3 separate regions of the Homo sapiens genome follow, and all the other regions are linked to region 3. The links come from fine-mapping of genetic effects on gene expression. A gene starts in region 3. Each other region holds a variant in brackets. All regions are shown on one strand. Distances are between the middles of the regions.

Region 1 (5,220 bases), 300 kb after region 3:
AGACCTCTGATTTGTATAGGTTATATCCTACACAAATGAAGACTTCTGCCCAGGACCAGTCAGAGGGAGGATTCTGCCCAGGACCAATCAGAGGCATCCTGCCTGTGATGCATATGCAAATGAAGGTTTCAGAATAGACCAATTACAGACATTCCTGTTCAGGATGTAGGGGAGGAGAGGTTCAGAAAGTGGGGGACATTTGGTCCCTCATTACTTTGTTGTGGAAAGGTGGGGTTTTCCTCTTAGTCCACTTCCAAGAAGGCAACCATGGGTTGGCCTTAGGCTTCCTGTCTCCAGACCCTATTCTCCCACCTCAGTCCTACAATGTCCCTGGAACTAGGCTAGACATCAACAGATATGATCTTACTGAATCTTCCCAGGAACTTACAAGATGGGTGTCGTTGTTCCTACTTTACAGATGAGGAAACAGAAGTTAGGAGAACAGCTAACTTGCCCAGCTCACCCAAGGAGGCACTGTGCTAAGTATGCAGCAAGGGAAACAGGTTACCTGTTTCCTGTAAAAATCACCCTGGGAATTTTTACAATCTAGTGAAAACACAGACACACAAATGACTAAATAGAGAACAAAGAAAATAAGTAGAAAGGTAAAGGGACAAATAAAATGCCCAGAGAGCCTACAGAAAGGGACATTTTATCCTGACTTGGTGAGGGACAGGTGTTTGTGCTGAATCCTAAAGGACAAGTAGGATTTTTTTTGTTTTGTTTTTTGAGACAGAGTTTTGTTCTGTCACCCAGGCTGGTGTGCAGTGGCGCCATCTCAGCTCACTGCAACCTTCGCCTCCTGAGACCAAGCGATTCAGGCACCCACCATCACGCCTTGCTAATTTTTGTATTTTTAGTAGAGATGGGGTTTCACCATGTTGGCCAGGCTGATCTTGAACTCCTGACCTCAGGTGATCCGCCTGTCTTGGCCTCCCAAAGTGCTGAAATTATAGGTGTGAGCCACTGCGCCTGGCCCAACAAGTAGGATTTTAACAGAATGAAAAGGGGTTCCCAGAATGTGGCTTGAGCAAAATCATAGAAGTGTGAAAGTGTATTTTGTGTGCGGAGTACAACAAATGTCATTGTGGTTAGAACACAGAGAAGGCAGAACAAAAAGGGGTAATACCGCCAGATCATGAATGGTCTTGAAGGCCATGTTGTGGAGTGTAGACTTGTTTCTGAATGCAGGAAATATATAAGCAGAAATGAGGACAAAAATATTATGTCAATGCCTGGTTTAGAGCAATGATTCTCAAGGATTCCTGATTCTGGAGAATCCTTGAGACCTTTTCAGAGGGTTTATGAGGTCAAAACTATTCTTACAGTAATGATGATAATAGTTATACTACCTTATTTGCCTTTAAAAATTGTGATAAAAATAACAAAATGTACCATCTTTGTACATTGAAAAATTTTAAATTTTATTTATTTATTTTTTTAGAGATGGGGTCTTGCTATGTTTACTAAGCTAGGGTACAGGCATGATCATAGTGCACTACAGCTCCAAACTTCTGGCCTCAAGTGATCTTCCTGCCTCAGCCTCCCGCGTAGCTGGGACTACAGACAGTATTTGTTGCCAATAATAAATCCAAGCTTTCACATAAAATTAGAAGTTTGGAAAAGTTGTATTTGCCATCATGAGGTTGACAGCTTTGTGATACTGAAGGTTTTTATTATATTAATAAGGTTGATTGTGATATTAATGAATAACACTTTTAAACATCTATAATGATATATGCACCACTGCATCCAGCCTACGTTTGTACATTTTTAAGTGTATAATTCAGTAGTGTCAAGTAGATTCACATTATTGCACAACAGATCTCTAGAACTTTTTTCATCTTCCAAAACTGAAAATCTATACCCATTAAACAACTCTTCATTTTCCCCCTCTGCAAGCCTCTGGCAGCCACAATCCTACTTTATCTTTCTGGGTATTTTACTACTTTGGACACCTTTTAAAAGGAGCCTTTCTGAACCTATTCTGGTTTGGGGCTTCCTTGCTACATTTGTGTTTTGTTTTGTTTTGTTTTGTTTTGAGACAGTCTTACATTGTTGCCCAGACTGGAGTGCAGTGATGTGATCTTGGCTCACTGCAACCTCTGCCTCCCAAGTTCAAGTGATTCTTCTGCCTCTGCCTCCCAAGTAGCTGAGATTACAGGTGCCTGCCACCACGACTG[G/A]CAAGTTTTTGTATTTTTAGTAGAGATGGGGTTTCACCATGTGGGTCAGGCTGGTCTCGAACTCCTGACTTCAAGCAATCCACCTGCCGCGGCTTCTTAAAGTGCTAGGATTACAGACTTTTTTTATTATGCTTGGATATACAGCATATACAGATATATAGTTTATTTGAGATTGATAAACTTTTTTAAAAAAATCTCATATAATTGGAATCATATAGAAGCTGTCTTTTTGTAGCTGGCTTATTTCACTTAGCATAATGTCCTCAAGATTCATCCATGTTGTAGCATGTGTCAGAATTTCCTTTTTAGGCCAGACACAGTGGCTCATGCCTGTAATCCCAGCACTTTGGGAGGCCGAGGCGGGTGGATAACCTGAGGCCAGGAGTTCGAGGCCAGCCTGGCCAACGTGGAGAAACCCTGTCTCTACTAAAAACACAAAAATTAGCAGGACATGGTGGCAGGTGCCTGTAATCTCAGCTACTTGGGAGGCTGAAGCAGGAGAATCACTGGAACCTGGGAAGCAGAGGTTGCTATCAGCCGAGATGGCACCACTGCACTCTATCCTGGGTGACAGAGCGAGACTCTGTTTAAAAAAAAAAAAAAAAAAGAAAAAAAATTCCTTCTTTTTAAAGTCTGAGTAATATTCCATTGCATATATATACACCACATTTTGTTTACCCATTTATCTGTGATGAACATTTGGATTGCTTCCACTTCTTGGCTATTGTAAATAATGCTGCTATGAACATGGGTATGCGTATATCTCTTTAAGATCCTGCTTTCAATTTCTTTGAGTATATACTCAGCAGTGGGATTGCTGGATCATACAGTATTTTCGTTTTTAATTTTTGGAGGAACCACCATACTGTTTTCCATAGCAGGTACACCATTTTCTATTCTGTTATTAGCCTTTTTAACTGGGCTGACATTTGCATTGATGCTGCAAATCAATGGCAGGTTTATCTGCTGGACCTTACTTAACACAGTGGTGCCAGGCTGACCTTGTACTCATTGCACTCTTTTTTTTTTTGAGATGGAGTCTCACTCTGTCGCCCAGGCTGCAGTGCAGTGGCACGTGATCTCGGCTCACTACAAGCTCCGCCTCCCAGGTTCACACCATTCTCCTGCCTCAGCCTCCCGAGTAGCTGGGACTACAGGCGCCCGCCACCATGCCTGGCTAATTTTTGTATTTTAGTAGAGACGAGGTTTCACCCTGTTAGCCAGGATGGTCTCGATCTCCTGACCTTGTGATCTGCCCGCCTTGGCCTACCAAAGTGCTGGGATTACAGGCATGAGCCACTGCGGCCGGCCCTCATTACACTCTTTACCGACACCTTTACTGACACAGTAAAACAAATGTTCTTGGTGAAGCAGTAAAAATTATTAATTTTAATTTTATCAAATCACAACCCTCAAGGCATGTCTTTTTTTTTTTTTTTTTTTTTTTGAGACTGAGTTTCACTCTGTCACCCAGGCTGGAGTGCAGTGGCTCAATCCTGGTTGACTGCAACCTCCGCCTCCCAGATTCAAGCAATTCTCCTGCCTCAGCCTCCTGAGTAGCTGGGACTACAGGCATGCACCACCACGCTCAACTAATTTTTGTATTTTCAGTAGAAACGGGGTTTCACCATGTTGGCCAGGCCTGTCTCAAACTCCTGACCTCAGGTGATTCACCTGCCTTGGCTTCCCAAAGTGCTGGGATTATAGGCGTGAGCCACCACGCCTGGCCAAGACATGTCTTCTTAATAAAGCACTTCTGCTGTACATCCAAGCATAATAACTACTTCAAGGAAAAGCACTTGTGGGATTGGATCTAGTTCTAGGAACAGAATAGCTCCTTTTTTTTTTCTTTTCTTTTCTTTTTTTTTTTTTTTTGAGACGGAGTTTCACTCTTGTCACCCAGGCTGGAGTGCAATGACGCGATCTCCGGTCACTGTAACCTCTGCCTCCTGGGTTCAGGAGAGTCTCCAGCCTCAGCCTCCCAAGTAGCTGGGATTACAGGCTCCCGCTACCATGCCCAGCTAATTTTTGTATTTTTAGTAGAGACAGGGTTTCACCATGTTGGCCAGGCTGGTCTCAAACTCCTAACCTCAGGTGATCCACTGGCCTTGGCCTCCCAAAGTTCTGGGATTACAAGCATGAGCCACCTTGCTGGGCCCTTTTTTTCATAAAATGCCATTTTTGCTTGGAAGAATGACTGACAGATAAACTATGGTTATACAGACGGGTATTTGGCATTTTTCTCAAAAGTGAGTGAAGTGAGACCATTAATTCATGGAAAACAACCGATAGTATTCACTGCCAATAATAAATCCAAGCTTTCACATAAAATGAGAATTTTGGAAAAGTTGTATTTGCCATCTTGAGCTTGACAACTTTGCAATACTGAAGGTTTTTATTATAAGATTGGTTGTGATATTATGAATGGGATTTTTTAATGTTTATAATGATATTAATGAATGAGATCTTTTATTTGAAAGATTGGCATAACTTCGTGAATCAATATTTTCCAAATGCATGGTGTTACAAAATTATTCATAGGTAGAACAGTCACTCGTTACAAGACAGACTGAGGGATTTTGATGTAACAGAATACCAAAAATTCATTGGTGTGGTTTCAGATTCCACATTGAAACTACCCTTTAAGAAACTACAATTTGTTGGCCAGGCACGGTGGCTCACTCCTCTAATCCCAGCACTTTAGGAGGCCGAGGCAGGTGGATCACTTGAGGTCAGGAGTTCAAGACCAGCCTGGCTGGCTGGGCACAATAGCTCATGCCTGTAATCCCAGCACTTTGGGAGGCTGAGGCGGGTGGATCACCTGAGGTCAGAGGTTCGAGACCAACCTGACCAACGTGGTGAAACCCTGTCTGTGCTAAAAATACAAAAACTTAGCCAGGCATGGTGGTGGATGACTGGAATCCCAGCTACACGGGAGGCTGAGATAGGAGAATCACTTGAACCTGGCAGGCGGATGTTGCAGTGAGCTGAGATCACACCATTGCACTCCAGCCTAGGCAACAAGAGTGAAACTCTG
Region 2 (5,220 bases), 60 kb before region 3:
CCCTCCACCTCTCTGGGGAGGGGAATTTCCCAGAGTCTGGCCTCTTTGCCTGAAGGCACCCCAGCCCCACCTTAGGCTCCAGGAGTTTCCAGCTGTTGGCCTTGAGTTGCTGTAGCTCCAGGAACTTGAGGGTCACATCCTCGATGGAGAGCTGTAGGAGGTCCCAGAAACCCGCCAGGTCCTGGAAGGTGGGCACAGGGAACGCAGTGGGATCCTGCAACAGAGGAAGATGGAGGGAAAGTGATTGGTCAAGGAGGTCTGAGCCCCAGCCAGGACAAGAGAAAGTCCTATCCACCCTTACTGCCAGGAAGCTCAGCCTGGGAGAGTGGGTGGGGGCTGGGAGACAGGGGGACAAGAGCGAGCCCAGGACTCCCCTTCTTGTGCACAAACACCTGGTCCTACCTCCAGGCACAAGACTCACAGCTACCCCAGAAGGCATGCAGGCCTGGTCTCACCTCTGGTACACACTCACTCTGGGTCACCTGCCTGTCTCACCTCCAGCACACACACACTCTGGGTCACATGTATCTGGTAGGATCTACTACTATGGGCACTCACCATGCTTTGCTGACACAGCCGGAAGAACTGCTGAACCTTCTGGGACAGGAGAAGTTGTGTGCTGCCCACAGCACTGCGGATCTTCTCCAGGACTAGAAAGCAGAAGGAAATTCAGGGAGGGAAATGATGCATCTCCTTCCCCAGCCTCCACGAAGTCTGCCCTGAATGACGCTGACCCCTCGGTTGCTTGGCACTGTGTATCCATCAGTCTCCTCCAGCCCCAGCCCCATCCCATCCTCAAGTTCCTAACAAGTTCTCGCTCCACTACACCAAGACTGTATCCTCAGACACTGATGTTCCCTCCTTCATACAGCCTACATTTCTTGAGTGCTCATCCTTCTTTATCCTTTCTCCCTCCCGTATCAGAGAACAGACGGAAACCAGCCCCAGCCTAGCCCTATAGCCTTGGCCAGGGCATTAGCTCAATGACCACCCACTGGCTAAGCTTTGTTCATCACTCCCCAGTGCATGCAAGACTCCTTGGCTCTTTAAGAATGACCAAGTAATTTCATGTACATAACACATCTTCATAGCCACTGTCCCCTCAACTCAGAGATTCTGGGGTAAGACTGTGTCTCCCAGTGGATCTGACTTACAGGAAGGGCCATGCTCTCCCTCGGGCCAGGGCCACATCTCCCTGGCTGAATCTCCCTCTTCTGTGCCTCAGACAGGATCTGACATTGTGAACTGCCTCCCTCTCTGTAATCTTGGTCGCACCACCTGGATCCCCACACCAGTCCAGATCTGAACGGAGTTCCCTTAGTCCCCATAAACTTGGTGATTTGGACTAGCAGCCATCCATAGAAGGCCCAGCCCTTTGGCCTGCAGTGTCTGCAGTCCCAGCCCTGGCCTCTAAAGCTGCACCATGTGCACCCTGCTCCCTTTCAAGAGCTCCCAGCATGTCTTGCTGCCGATGTTGACCCGCCACGCTCCAGTGCAGAAGACCAGTGAGGCACCAACCGAAGGGGCCTCCTGTTACACTGCAGCCCCAGCCACCCCCATCAGGGTCTCCTGAGCACACACGAGGCCATGGTCCCCAGAGTCCCCTTGTTCCGATGCCGTGACTCACTCTCCTCGGGTAGCTCATAGTCCTCCGCCTCACGCTCCATCTGCTGGCACCAGTGCTCCAGCTTCTCCACCTCTGCCCGCAGCATCTTGATGAACCACTCGCCGTCGCGTGGGCAGGGGGATGCGCGGCCTGAGTCGGGGAGGCTACGTGAACCGCGCTCTATCCAGGAGTCACGGCGGCCGGCCCCAGGGCCGGGGGTGGGGGCGGGGGCAGGGCCGGGCGACCCATCGGTGGCCGGCGGCTCGTACGGCAGTGGGTAGCCCTCGCGGTAGGCCCACTGGCCCTGCGTGTGGACCGTGCGGAAGACTGAGTAGGTGGGGGCCCGGGGCCCAGGCTGGGGCTCAGAGGCGTGCCTCTGGAAGGAGCGTCCAAACTGCAGGGCCTTGTCTTCTGTGGCCACCGTGGCCAGGCCTGCCAGGCCCTCCAGCTCCAGGTCTGCCTGCACGCCAGCCGTCACACTATTGGAGCGCTTGAACCTTGCTCGCCTGGGGAGAGGGGTGGCTGTCAT[C/A]CCCCATTGCCCAGGCTCATGCCAGCTCTCACCCCCACCCCAAGCAAAAAAAAGGAAGGGAATGAGAAAGGGAACCTACAAAGTGATGGACATTAACCTATGCACTTTAAATATATTGGTCCTTGCAACAGCTACGTACATAATATACCTACCTATTGCACTGCCTCTAGATAGGGGTGATATCCAAGCTATTTAGCAACCAGTTCAGTCCATGGACAGAGCAGATGCTGGCATATACCAGGCAGAGCAGGCACAGACCAAAATGCTGCAGCAGTGCCCTGGAGAGGCTAGATTGTGGGGTGGGCTAGAGGGGTCAGGGAGGAGCCAGGGTGGTGGCTCTTTACCAGTGAAGGCAGAAGATATTTCAATTTTTTTTTTTTTTTTTTTTTTTTTGGAGATGGAGTTTTGCTCTTGTTGCCCAGGCTGGAGTGCAATGGCGCGATCTCGGCTCACCGCAACCTCCGCCTCCCGGGTTCAAGCGATTCTCCTGCTTCAGCCTCCCGAGTAACTGGGATTACAGGCATGCGCCTTTTGTCTCTTTTTGGAAGAGACAGGGTTTCTCCATGTTGGTCAGGCTGGTCTCGAACTCCCGACCTCAGGTTATCCACCCGCCTTGGCCTCCCAACGTGCTGGGATTACAGGTGTGAGCCACCACGCCTGGCCGAAGTATTTCAATATTTTAACAAATTCTATGTCTATGCTAGTTTACACCAGCTGCACTAGAGTGTCCTCAGCTCTACCTAGAGATGAGTAAACTAAGTAAACCCAGCTTCAAAGTAGCAGAGCCAGGATTTGGACTCAGCGCTGCTGGGCTCCACAGTCCAAGCACTTCCCACTGCACCAGCTGCTAGAACATCACAGGAAGAAATGCCTTGGAGCAGCTGGAGGTGGAGTGGGCCTGCAGCTGGGAGGACTTCTCTAGGGACCCCGATGGCTCAGCCCAGAGCCTGGCCAGACACAGTAAGTCAGTGCCAGTGGAGCTGAATTAAGTTGTTTGCAGGAATGACATAGGGCCTGGAAATTTCTTGTCTTTGAGTTAATAATATGCAAATCTTATGCAAACCAAAAAGTCAACTGGCCGTTTTCATTTTTTCCCTGAATTCAGAGTTCTTTTCTATAAAGAAGTCAGTGGCCGCTTAAGATGCATGAGGTTGGGACCAGGCAATACTTTAAGAAGTGGGAGTCAGGAGATGTGGGAGGTGGGGGATAAACAGAAGATCAAGGTTTGGAAATTCAAGGACCACAAAAGAAAAGCCTGTGTGTCCTGAGCTACCTCCACCCCTACATGGTCAGAAGGGATTGTGGGCCCAGCTCTAGGGTCCCTCCACCTCCCCAAGAGACTCTCCCAACCCCCGCAACTTCAGCCTTTCTCTTGCTGCCCAGGCCTTCTCTCCCTGCCTGCCTGCCTACTTCTCTCCAGCTGGCAGGCTGCCTGCTGGGAGCCTGTTGCCATAGAAACCAGGCCCAGAAGGATGCTGCAGGACCCAGGAAGGAGAGATGCACTCATGTGCAGTCTCCAACGAGCCCTATGTCCCAACCCCCACCCAGAGAGGGAGAAGGAGAGAGAACATATCCTCATTGCCTCCCACACAGTCTTCCCCTCAGTGTCTGCCCTGTCCTGCCCTGGTCAAGGTTTGCATCACCATCTGCCCTGATGATTAGACTGGCCTCCTTTCAGATACCTCTGCCTCCATCAGTACCCTGCAGAGGAAGAGCACGGGGCCAGGAGTTAGCTCTGAGTTCTAATGCTGGCTTTCTCACTGTGTGCCTTTGTCACTCACCCTCCATCTAGGTCATCCAATGTGTATGTGTGTATGTATTTAAAATATATGTATTAGATATAAATATACACACATATACATCTAAAAATACACACATATATACAATTATAGAAATAGATAAGTAATTGCCAAGGTAGTTCCTCTCTCTAAAATTATATTTTGCATATTTTAAGATCTGGGGCCCTCCCCAGTCCACCCAAGACTGGAATAGTCTTCCTAAAGCTGAGCTCTGCCAAGTCATTCCCCTGCTCAAAACCCTTCCACAGCCCCCTACTACCAACAAGACAAAGTTCAGACTTCCTGTACCAGCATTATCTGAGGCCCTGATGTCCTGGACACAGTCCTCCTCTTCAACCTCATCTCCCCCACATTCTCCTTGTTCCTTGAATCGACTATAAGCGATCCTGACTCCAAGCCTTTGCACACGCTACTCCTCTGCCTGAAATGGCCTTCCTCCTCCTGGCTCCTTGTCCATTCCCTCCTTAAGTCCTGTTTTACCTGTTTCACCCTCCACTGCCCACAAGACCACTCCTGAGTACCACACCTCCCTCAGCAGCCCTCCTGGCTTCAGAGGCAGCCCTGCCGTTCAGGCAGATTGTTCTCTTTCTGGTGAGAGTCTTGAATGTCTAGCTGCACTGTTAGGATGCATCTTGACTTACTTTGAATGTTTTTGTGCCTTTGTGCTCTAGTTAGCTTGTGGCTCCTTCAGAGCTACAGCTGTTGCAAACCACAAAGGTAAAGGAGGGGGTTGCTCCAATAAATACGTGCCTGATGATCTGCCACACCTGCGTGCTTTCCTGTCGCCCCTGCTAAACACAGCTGTGTCCTTCGGCACTGCCATGTTCGCTGCCTTCCGCCTGTCCTCTGAGATGTCTTGAGAGGATCCCATTCCATCGCGATGGAAACAGCCATACTGCCGGGAACAGAAGGACCAAGTGCCCCAGGCTGCATGCTTCTCAAGCCACTGCCTCAGTGAGCTCTCTCACATGTCTGCCTCAAAGGAGACCAAGGAAGTCGAGGAGCTGATGGGATGACCAGAAGCACAGTCCTCACCAACGCTCCTGGCCAGCAGCCAGAGATGTGTACAGCACAAGCAGGAGGCGCTTATCCCTGTGCAAGTGGCATTTAAAACCAGCAGTGTGGGACAAGCTCACCCAAGAAAAGAACAACGGATCCAAGATCCAAACCCCGGGAGAACACGGACATTTCAGGGGTGGGTGGAGACGGTGCAGCTCATAGAGGAGACTAAGCCAGAAAGGAAGGGGGAGAAAACCACCAGAAAGTGACATAAAAGCAGAGAGGGG
Region 3 (5,220 bases):
ACATCAGCTGGAAGAGATGATGTTAGGTGTCAGGCAGCCGCTGAAAGCAGGTACTAACATGAGAAAGTCTGGGAGTCTGGCCTGTAGCAGCTCCAGCCCCTCACCAGCAGGAATCAAGACAAGACAAGCCCATGGCCTACCTCGGTGGTGGGTGTGGCTAGGAATCCCTATCCCCAGCGACATCTGTAGCGCCCTCTCTTTGGCAAGGAGTCCCAAGCTGAAAGATGTACAGCCTTAGGCTTTTTGAGTCTTCATTTCTTTTCCAAAAATCCCCTGTACTCAGCTCTGATGGGGGTGGGGAGAGTTCAGGAATAGAAGGCAACATGGAGGATTGCAAAGTTCCTCGTCTAAGATTAGCCTAGGAACTCACAAATTCGTTGTGTGACCTTGGGCAAGTCCCCTCCCTTCTTGGGGCTTCAGAGTCCCCGGTTTGTAATGAAGAGGTTGGACCAAGTCAATACTAAGGTTCCTCTCCTGGCCATCATTCTACAGCTACATACAAGCTCACTCGTTGGATGTGAGCCCCCTGGCACAAAACTCAGCGGGCCCTGCCTGCCAGATCAGTGGGGCAGTGGCGGGTGGGAGATGCGGGGGCTGTATGTGAGGCCGTTCATCCTATGTTCATGTTCCTTTTAGAAACACCTGCCACCCTAGCCCTCCCAGCTCCCTTTTTAGACCCTGATTCACTGCCAACTCACGAAGCCTCTCCCTCCCCTCCCTCCTCTCTTCTCCCCCCACCCCCCACTCTTTTAGGCATTGGCAGCTGGGTGCAGAAGTAGCCCCAGCATTCAGGGAATGCTGCGCAGTGGTAGAGGGCAGTGCCCCCAGGGTCAGAGAGAGCACACCAGGAAGTACCACTCTCTAACCTTGGCCCAGCCCAGTTCTTTGGGTCACTGAAAGACCTGGGCTGAGGTCTTTCTGTACCACTAACTAGCAGTGTGTGGTTGTGGAAAATGCAATTCATTTCTCAAGCCTCAACATCTTCATCTGTAAATCGGCATTATATTTGGTTGAACCATATGAAATTGCTGTTTTTGTAGGTTAAATAAAAACAGTTGAATATTGCAGTTGCATATGGCTTAACGTGATACCTGTCCTGCCTGCTTCCCAAGGCTGTTGGGGAAATAAGAAGAGTTCAGAGGGCAGCATTTTCAAAAGCCCTGAACTAATATGAGGGCATTATTTTATTATTATTACTTCAAAGAGCTTAGTACAGACCCACCCGGAGCCAGTGGACTGAACCAATAACCCAGAACTTGAAGGTTTGGGACTTGGAAGTCTGGGAGAGCGCCACCTGCTCTGATGACTAACAGGGCAGACGCTTCCACCTGGCCTCCTCATCTCCTAGCTCTAAAAGGCCCTTGGTGAAACATTATTGAGATGACACAAGTTCCCAGGCCCCCAAAAGGAGAAGCAGCACACGCAGGCACATACTCCAGCTCGCCCCAGATCCCCCCTCCCACCCACCAGGGGCCTTAGCATGCAGGAAGGACACGACCAGCAACATCCCAGAGGGCACCCCCTGAGGTAGGTGAAGGTAGAGACCAAGCTGGGGAGTGCCACAAAGCTCTTGCCTGAATCAAGGGTCAGGGGTCCCCAGAGAAGTGGGGAATGATCTGACCTCGGAAAAGTCTCATCTCCCTGTCCCATATCCCACCAGGAATGGGGGGACAGTGGGGGGGACAGAGCCCAGGTGTGGGTGATTCAGAGTGAACCGCGCTCAGATACACTCTCTCTCACACAGCCAACGCACGCGCGCGCACACGCACACACACACACACACAGTCACACAGGGCAGATACCGGGACCCACTCACAGAGACAGTCACGCCGGCACACACATCCATTCACACACTCACAGACACACACAGGCACACATGGGGACAACACACACTCATTCACTCACATGTCCACAGATGCATACACAGTACCACCCTCCACACTCACGCTGCATACACCCACTAACATGCACACACACTCTCGCCCACAGTGACACACGCACACACTCACGGCATACACTCACCGGCACACACAATCGCCCACAGACCCACACAGTGACACACTCGGCACAGACACACAGCGACACGCACTCACATTCACACACCTGCAGAGGAAACTTCTCTCCGGATCTCCCCAGCACCACGACTTCCCCCACAACCAGCTGGCTACTCCCTCCCAGACCCGAGCCTCCAGCCGGGCGAGGGCTGGGCCGGGGCTGGCCTGTCCCCGCGGCCCTGACCGGGAGCGTGGGTCCGCGGTCCGCGTGGTCCCCTGCCCGCCCCTCGGGTCGGGCCCGCGGGCAGCCAGGCCGGGGCAGGAGCGGGGGCAGCTGAGGAGGCCCAGCCCCTCCCCCCTCCCGGGGCCGGGAGCCGAGCGCCGGAGCCCGGGGCGTGGGCGGCGCCGGGGCCGCAGCCGGGCCGTGCCTGGGGGGCGCTGCAGAGGGAGCCGCGAGCGCGGCCCCGTCCCCACTCCTCCCCGCGGCTTACCTGGCCCGGCTCGGGCTCCGGCCGGGTTACATGGTGCCGGCGGCCCGGGCCGGGGGCGCTGCGGCGTTGGGCAGGCGGGCAGGGACCGGGGCCCGGCACTGCGGAGCCCCCAGCTGAGGGGCCGCGCCGGCTGCGGAGCCCCAAGCGAGCGCCGAGCGGCAGCGGGCGCGGGAGCGGGAGGCGGCCAAGCCACGGAGGCTGGATTTCCCGGGGACCGGGAAGGGGAGGCGGGGGGATCCCGCCCGCGCGCTCCGCCCCCGCCCCCGCCCCCGCGCAGGGCAGCCGAGCAGGGAGAGGGAGAGGGAGAGGAAGAGGGAGGGGGACCGAGCTCCCCGCCCCCGCGCGGACCCAGGAGGGCCGAGGTCGCCGCCCGCGGGCGGCCGCCGGGGTCCCGGAGGAGCGCCCACCTCGCTGAGCGACGGTGCTGGGGGCGCCCAGCGTAGGGGCAGGAATGAGATCCCCCTCCCCGGGGACCCAGGAACAGGCACCCGAAGTGTCACGGCCACGCACAGCCGACCTGGGTACAGGGACCCAAGCCCGGCGGCGGGCGGGCGGTCGGGGACCAGCTCAGCCTCACGGACCGGGTCTCGCCCCCCGCCGAGGGGCAGTCACGCCCTGAATGTCACACACAGCCCCCAGGCCCGTCCGCTTAGGAGACTCTCCTTCGGGCTTTCCCGGTCGGCCGCCTGACCTCAGCTCCTGGCTTGGGGTCAGGGAGCCCCCCTCTTCGGCCCCAGCCCCTGCCAGGATGGGGCGCTGTGCCCGGCCTCGGAGCCGCTGGCAGGCGTCCCCCACCCACAGTCCGCACAGCCGAGGCATCCCCAGTGTGGAGGGAGAGCCCCGCTGTACCTGCCGCCTGTGCTGGGCCCCCGCCCGTGCCCACTGTGCCCGCCCGCCTCTGGGCCCTGAGCCTGGGATTGTGCCATGGCGGGGTCGGGGTGGGGGGAAAGGGACTGTCCGAAGCACAGCTGGAGGCTGCGGAGCCCGGACACAGGCTGCGGGAGCCGAGAGGCGGAGAGCGGACTGCAGCAGTCCCCTGGCTTGAATCCGTCTTGGCGCCCAGAGCGATGCTGTAATGGGGGGGAGGGGGCCACGGTGGGGAAGCCGCAGGGGGAGGGGCTGAAGACGTGGGGGAAGGGGTGGCTCCGGATTCCGGCTTTCCAGGGTAGGTGTGAGGAAACACTGCCTCCGGCGCTGAAAGTTGGGGGTGGAGGTTCAGTGGGCATCCTTAAAGCCCTCTTCCCTCCTCTACCTTTTCCGGTCTTGAAAGCTTGGGATGGTGAGGTGTGGGCTTGGGAGGCTTGAGACTGCCCACCTCTCTAGGAACATACCTTGGAGTTGTTCTGATTCAACGGCCCCCACCCCGCACCCCAACAACTCCCTGCTCTCTGTTTCCTTGTGGGGCCACCGGCTCTCCTCCCTGTATAAAGGGGAAAGTGAGGCACGGAAAGGAGAAGCCAAAGGCCCAGAAGAGCTAGAACTGGGAGCCAAGACCTCTTTTCCCCAGGGAGATGATGTTTTAAGATGCCACATTACATTAAATAACATAAGGGGCTTGGAGAGCCCTCTTCCCAAGGGATACCTAGAAGTCTGGTAAGAGACTAGTAGATTGGTCACCTACCCTGCTGCTCACAAGAACGGTTCATTGTCTCTTCAATCATGAAGTGAGGTTGCAGACCATTTCCAGCCCAGGGTTCAGTCAAGAGCAGATGTCATGAAAATAAGAAAGTTGTTCCCAGGAACCCACTTTAGAACTGAAGGAAACATCTCACTTTCCGTGGAGCATAAGAACAGCCGTTGGGCCGAGCGCAGTGGCTCATGCTTATAATCCTAGCACTTTGGGAGGCCAAGGCGGGTGGATTACCTGAGGTCAGGAGTTCAACACCAGCCTGGCCAACATGGTAAAATCCCGTCTCTACTAAAATTACAAAAAATTAGCCGAGTGCAGTGGCACGTGCCTGTAATCCCAGCTACTCAGGAGGCTGAGGCAGGAGAATTGCTTGAACCCGGGAGGCACAGGTTGCAGTGAGCTGAGACTGTGCCACACTGCAGCCTGGGCAACAGAGCCAGATTCAGTCTTAAAGAAAAAAAAAAAAAAGGATGAGCTGACGGCCGGGCACAGTGGCTCACGCCTGTAATCCCAGCACTTTGGGAGGCTAAGGCAGACGGATCACCTGAGGTCGGGAGTTCGAGATCAGCCTGGCCAACATGGTGAAACCCTGTCTCTACCCGAAATACAAAAATTAGCCCGGTGTGGTGTTGGGCGCCTGTAATCCCAGCTACTCAGAGGCTGAGGCAGGCGAATCACTTGAATCCGGGAGGCAGAGGTTGCAGTGAGCAGAGATTGCACCATTGCACTCCTGCCTGGAACTCCGTCTCAAAAAAAAAAAAAAAAAAAAAAAGAACAGCCGTGATAGAGGATGTTAAAAAGCACCACCGTGTTTTCGCAGTTCTAAGACCTGTATTTTGTAAACTATTCTGAAACTGGAAAGCATCTTACAATAAACAGGGACATTTAATATGGCTCTTCTTACCTTTCTGTTAAAGCTATTAGAGTTGGTGCATTTTAGAATTGAGAACATAATGTTATTTTCATTTGTTCATTCAACAACCCTTTACTGATTATACCTGGCACCTTGCTAGCCTCTTGGGGGCATACAGGTTAATCAGACAGGCTTACCTTAGACAGTGTTCTCCCATAGCCATCCAGTGATTAATAACTGATTAATAAGGGA

Which allele goes with the higher level. Alleles are on the strand shown, and positions count from the first base shown. SD is a standard deviation of normalised expression in the study named.
For the expression in aorta of the gene that starts at base 2,685 in region 3, G is the low allele of the variant in region 1 and A is the other (moderate effect, 0.43 SD a copy in GTEx).
For the expression in subcutaneous fat of the gene that starts at base 2,685 in region 3, allele C in region 2 goes with a lower level than allele A (large effect, 0.91 SD a copy in GTEx).

The links. PIP is the estimated chance that this variant, and not a neighbour inherited with it, causes the effect.
Region 1: its variant is fine-mapped to the expression of DLGAP3 in aorta (GTEx, PIP 0.98).
Region 2: its variant is fine-mapped to the expression of DLGAP3 in subcutaneous fat (GTEx, PIP above 0.99).

Annotation. Positions count from the first base shown.
Region 1 is chr1:35,229,681-35,234,900 of GRCh38, forward strand. No RefSeq gene overlaps it. Among named protein-coding and RNA genes, the nearest start is that of ZMYM4, 36 kb to the right of the region's middle. The variant G/A (reference allele first, on the strand shown) is at 2,184.
Region 2 is chr1:34,866,978-34,872,197 of GRCh38, forward strand. It overlaps DLGAP3 (DLG associated protein 3), which reads right to left. Exons shown (of 12, transcript NM_001080418.3): 9 at 1,628-2,112; 10 at 559-650; 11 at 71-214. Among named protein-coding and RNA genes, the nearest start is that of SMIM12, 9.8 kb to the left of the region's middle. The variant C/A (reference allele first, on the strand shown) is at 2,136.
Region 3 is chr1:34,926,966-34,932,185 of GRCh38, forward strand. DLGAP3 (DLG associated protein 3) reads right to left here and starts at 2,685. Exons shown (of 12, transcript NM_001080418.3): 1 at 2,486-2,685. RefSeq lists silencers at 2,194-2,263, 3,244-3,293.